Regions from separate parts of the Homo sapiens genome. Here region 1 is linked to region 2. The links come from fine-mapping of genetic effects on gene expression. A gene starts in region 2. The other region holds a variant in brackets. All regions are shown on one strand. Distances are between the middles of the regions. Region 1 overlaps PDZD2 (PDZ domain containing 2). Region 2 holds the start of PDZD2 (PDZ domain containing 2).

The links. PIP is the estimated chance that this variant, and not a neighbour inherited with it, causes the effect.
Region 1: its variant is fine-mapped to the expression of PDZD2 in tibial artery (GTEx, PIP above 0.99).

Annotation. Positions count from the first base shown.
Region 1 is chr5:31,742,575-31,745,486 of GRCh38, reverse strand. The region is part of intron 1 of PDZD2 (PDZ domain containing 2); the gene reads right to left. Among named protein-coding and RNA genes, the nearest start is that of PDZD2, 100 kb to the right of the region's middle. The variant T/C (reference allele first, on the strand shown) is at 1,308.
Region 2 is chr5:31,637,931-31,640,842 of GRCh38, reverse strand. It overlaps PDZD2 (PDZ domain containing 2), which reads right to left and starts at 1,712. Exons shown (of 25, transcript NM_178140.4): 1 at 1,406-1,712. RefSeq lists a silencer at 1,409-1,758.

The DNA of each region.
Region 1 (2,912 bases), 100 kb before region 2:
GCTTCTTGGAGGACAAAGACTTCCCACATCCACTTGAATCCATTTATTTTTATCAAAAAATACTTATTGAGCACCTACTGTGTATCAGACACTATTCTAGATGCTGGGGATAAAACAATGTACAAAATAAACGGAACTAAAACTCTCTACACACACGTACCCACACATACGAAGAGGTGTGACCAGTGTTTTTATCTGGATGGTGGTGTTATTGGTCTTTATACCCCTTTGGGTCCATCCACATAGTCTATTTTTTCTACAATAAACACAAATTTCTTTATTAATATGAAAAATATTGCTTAAAAACTAAACATTAAAAAGAAGGCACTGAGACACAAGAGAGAAGGCAGTGGGTATCTCAGGGACACTTGGTGTTTATTTTTTATTTTATTTATTTATTTATTTATTTTTTTTGAGACGGAGTCTCCCTCTGTCGCCCAGGCTGGAGTGCAATGGCGCGATCTCGGCTCACTGCAAGCTCCGCCTCCCAGGTTCATGCCATTCTCCTGCCTCAGCCTCCTGAGTAGCTGGGATTACAGGTGCCCACCACCACGCCCGGCTAATTTTTTTTTGTATTTTTAGTAGAGGCGGGGTTTCACCATGTTAGCCAGGATGGTCTCAATCTCCTGACCTCAAGATCCGCCCGCCTCAGCTTCCCAAAGTGCTAGGATTACAGGCGTCAGCCACTGCACCTGGCCACACAGAGCTTCTTATCCTAGCAGAGGGAAAATTCTTTTTAGCATGATTAAGCTATTCAGTTGTTCACTAAAACCTTCTGAAATAATTTGACTATATCCTTGGACTCAATAATTATGCATGCAAAAAAGGAGAAAGAGAATACAGTGTTTTTACAGTGAGATTCTTTCCTGTTCAACCATGAAGGGGAAAAATCTTTCTTCTTTTTTTTTTCAGAATTCAAATCGAGCTAATATTGGAGAATACATGTCAAAAAAGATTATATAATTCTTTCAAATGATATCAATATCAAAAGGCACTTTAAACAACTCGTTTTCTTTTTTCTTTTCCTTCTTTTTTTTGGAAGTGAATTAAGACCCTCTCTTGGATACCAGCTGTGAAAGAACGGACTTTTTTTACCTAGTAAGGATGTGACAGACCTGCTCCTGACCCTTCTTTGTTAGTGGCCAGTAAATATACGCAAGGCAAAGTCCCACCCTAGTTTTGAAAAAAGCCAAACTAACAACTCTGCCCAATTTCAAGGAACCGATATAATTTTCAGTACATGAGTGTGATTTAGAAATGGAAACAACATCAGAGCAGGGTTAAATCAACAACCAAGCCATAGACCT[T/C]AAAAGGACCAGACTTCATGGTTCAATGATGCCAAGAAAAAGATTCCACCTATAAACTCTTTAGAAAGTAACCACCTCAGAAAGTTCCAGACAAACCAGTTCTGCTTTGCAGATCAGCCCTGTATAAAGCTCTTACCACATTAGTAAGAAGTTACTTGTGCTTTGGTTACAAACAGGCACAATTAAAGGGAAGAAAAGGAAAGACTAGGACAGAAAACTCTATATTTGATGCCGCCTGAGCCAATTAGCTGAGTCTAGAATTCTTTATTTCATTTTCTCACCTACTAGCCTCTCAAAATGCACAGTCATTGTCTGGATTAGCAAACTACACATCATGCATACCTGGTCTTTCAGTTTCTTCCGTGGGGCATGTTTCTTCCATTTCTTTCATATCTGAGGCACCAATATCCTAGCTGAGAATCTGACAGAGAGTGGGCACCCTCTCAGTGGTTGCTGGGGATAGATGGACGAATGAATGGATGAACTGAAGGATGAAGGAACAGGTGAAAGATTTGTCCTAAAAGAACCTGGATGCCATAGGCCTGCCTTCAAAAGAGCCATTCCCCTATTTCTAGCGATGATTTAAACTATTCATTCCATGAGCAATTTATTTATTATTTTCAATATGCTAGGCATCATGCAAGATACAATAGCATAAAAATATGACAGACTTCCACTGTACCAGAAAAGAAAATACAAGCAACGACAAGCAGTAGAATATAGGCCAGGCACAGTGGCTCACGTCTGTAGTCCCAGCACTTTGGGAGGCCGAGATGGGTGGATCGCTTGAGCCCTGGGCAACATGGCGAATACCTATCTCTACAAAAAAATACAAAGATTGGCCGGGCATGGTGGCGCATGCCTGTAATCCCAGCCATTGGGGATGCTGAGGCTGGAGGATCACCTGAGCCCGGGAAGGTTGAGGCTTCAGTGAGCCATGATTGTGCCACTGCACTCCAGCCTGGGCAGCAGAGTAAGACCCTGTATCAAAAAAAAAAAAAAGAAAAAAGAATATAACCTAATATGAAAATACATGACATACTCAACACTAAAGAGATTCAGAGTAGGTCAAAATCAATGTATGTATGGCAGAATTCAGCAGGGGAAAAGAGTACTAATGCTATTCATATAACATCCTCCAAAGGTGAAGATGGACTGGCTAATCAGAAAGAATATTTGGAAAAGTTTCTGAATTCACTTAGAAGCTCAATTTTCTATCTAGCACTACCAAATAACACATAGCAGAAAAAGTACTAGGTTGACAAACAGAAGAAACAATAATCTTCATTTAATTCACATCTTCCAGCAGTAGTTGGTAAGCCAAATGCTTTTAGAGACCAAGCAGGTAACTGATCAAAGCCCTTTGTGTACCAGGGCTTGTTCTAAGTGTATCACAAGCATTTTTCCTAGTCCTTGCTACAGTCCTCTGGGAAGACACGAATATTATTCCACTTTACAGATGAAGAAACAGAGGCCCTAGCAAGTTATGGCTCTGCAAGTTTACTAGGTTGGCCAAAGTCAAACAACCAGCAAATGCTAGAGCAGAGACTCAGGGCAGGAAGCTCTGAATCCACAGCCTCAGCTGTTCAAGACCACCATCCCCTG
Region 2 (2,912 bases):
ACAACTAGGTGGTTATTATAGGAGCAGAAGCTCTGGGCCCATCCTAATGGAAGAAGGAATTCATGAAGCCAGAACCACCACCTACAGCCAGGGGTGTGTTCTGAGACATTCTCTTCTGCCCCCACAAGCAGCACTCCCACTTCACACCTGCCAACCTGTACCTATCTGGCCACCACCCAGAAGTCACAACCCACAAAAGCTGGCCCAGTAGAGATGCCAGGCCCCTAAAGCCCTCCAGTGTTCAGAGACCCCACTGGAGAACAGGCCCTGAAGGTCCAGGGGGTCTCTCTGCAAGGACAGATCAGGGCATCACTTACTGCAGCCACTCAGCAACCACTTCCAGTAGTTTCATTGCGATTTGTCAAGGCAAACATATCCACCTACCCTACCTTTGGTGGAGGCAAGAGGTTAGGCCAGCTGCAGGGGACAGACTCAGACTCAGCTCCATCCCCCAACACTGCCCAACGGCCAGTCCCAGGGCAGGTCTGGAGCTCTGGAATGCCCTCGTGCCTGCCATTCCAGTCTCTGCGACCAGCCCATGCCAGACCTTGTCCTCTTCCCACTCCAGTGTCCCTTATCAAGGTCTCTGCATAGATTTGGGCTGCCGAGGACAGCTTCTGGCAAACTCCTGCCAGGGGTCCTGGACCCTCCTGCTGCTGAATTCAGCCTTGCGCTTTAATGGATTTTCCAAATAGCGGGGACCACAGGCAGCTCAAAGACTTAAAACACAAACGCAAACCCGAGGGAGGGAGAGAGGAACAGAGGGAGGGAGAAACCAGATTTTAGGAGAAACTCGACTTCAGAGAGAGAGCAGGATTTCCCTATCACTATGTTCCCCATCTCCCCGGCAGACGCCAATAACCGGCCCTAAGATGCCCTTGATCTTTGCGCGCCCCCTGCATTCCCTCGCCCCGCGTCTAACGTCTCATCTGGGCAAAGAGGCGGGGGTTGAGAGATGAAACAAGCCCGAGGGAGGATGGTCCCCAAGACATTACCTGAGGCCGGAGTACCTGAGTACCTCCACTCCTGTCGGAGGAAGGGACCAGAAGACGGCCCAGGGATGGGGACCCGGGATGCGCGCCCGAGCAGGAGGTCCCGGCCCTGTCTTGAGTACCCCCGGCAGTGCGTCTCCGGTTGTCCCGCTGTCTCGGTCCCGCTCTGTCTAGCCCCCTCCCCTGGGCTGCGCCCTCCCCGTCCCCGGCCGGATGCTAGAGGAGTTTGCGCCGCCCAACGTGGGACCCCGGTTCGGCGTCCTCACTCCCCGCCCTGCCAGGGCTGGGATTCCCGCACCCGGATTTGTAGCTAAACTTTCCTGGGCACACACGGTCTCGGGGGTGCCGGGCCTCCCCCATCCCCTGCCCACCCGGAGCCGCGCGTCCCGGCTGCAGCGGGACGGTCGCTTCACCTGCTCGCGGCTTGGCCGAGGCTCCCGCGGCTTCCTCGCGCGTCCAGACCCAGGCGCCGCCCGGCGGGTCCCCGCGCAGCTGCCGCCACCGCGGCCACCACCGGTGCCGCCGCCGCGCCTGCCCCGAGCTGCAGAGCCGCGGTTCGCCGGCAGCCGCGGGAGGCGCAATCCCGGTGCCTTGGGTTCGGCCTGCGGCTCCTCGGCTGCCTGCAGCCGCCGCCCCGCCGCGTCCCGCTGCCCGGGGCCGGCACGCACCGGCGCTGGGGTCCGCTCCTCGCCTCGCTGCGCAGGGGATCCGCCGAGCCTCCAGGATGGGCGGGGATTCCCTCCCCCTGGTTGATTCGAGGGGCGGGAACTCCCTTCCCCGAGTGACAGGGACGGGGGGCGGGGATTCCCCTGCAGGAATAACAAGGTGGGCGGGGATTTCCCCGAGCGAGCCCCGCCGCGGGCAAGGCGTCTCTCTGGGTGAGCCAGGAGTCCTGGTGCGCCCGCTTCAGAAACCTGGGGATCGTGGGAGGAAGGCATCCAGGGAGATGGCTGCTCCGAATCTCCATACAGGCGGGGCTTAGGGCGCCATCTAGGTGGAACAGAGCGAGCTAGGGGACGTGAAGTTGCCTCTGCATAGCACTTTACACAGCAAAGAGAAAAATGTCAGTTACCTTATCAAAGAATGGGGCGGAGGGGCCACAGGAGATGGGGGAAGAGCTAACCACTCACCCCAAGCTACCCTTAGCCTCTGGTCCTTGGGATACCAAAGGTAATTTAGCACTGGTACGAGGATTTCGGGGAGAGGGGACCTCTTGGCACCTCAGAGCTGCTTAATCCCCCAGTTAAGCCCCTGGGGGGGAATCCCATGGCCCTGGGGTGGTGGTTTTGGTCCCATGAGCACTAGCCACGAGCTCCTGCCGAGTGGACTGTGAGAGCTAATGCCAGCCGCCCTTGGCTCCCGTCCAGGTCACTCGAGGAACCGAGCCTCAGGCTTTTGGGATCCTTCATTCCGGTGGATTTTCAGGAAGGCCTTCAAATATTTTTGGTTCTTTTTTTGTCATCCTTGTCATTCTGCCTACCAAAGGGAGAGGATGATAAGAACATAATAGGAAGACTGCACAGCTCTGCAAATTAAGCTCTCTTAAGAGGAAAAAGCTGGTCTTTTTCAAGTGCTGGCAGATAAGAGTAAAAACATATGAAAAATTGCAAAACCTGGGATAATGAATAGTTGAATAATGCTTTTGACATTTTCTACAGAACAGTAATTGGAAATCTTTGCTTTCGGGGGGATGGGGATGGGACAGGGCAGGCCCCAGCTGCAGTTCTGCCCAGCAAGGCAATAAACTCTGGCCTCTCCGAAAAGCAGGCAGACATAAATCACCTGCGCAGACCGGACAGCGCTGTCCCACCACACCAGAGACCAGAGTGGGCCCAAGGCATTTGGAGGTGGTATTGTCCTCAGGGGCTGGGGTGGAGAAGTTCTTGATTTCAGCTGTTCTTCAGCTTTTATAATTACCAG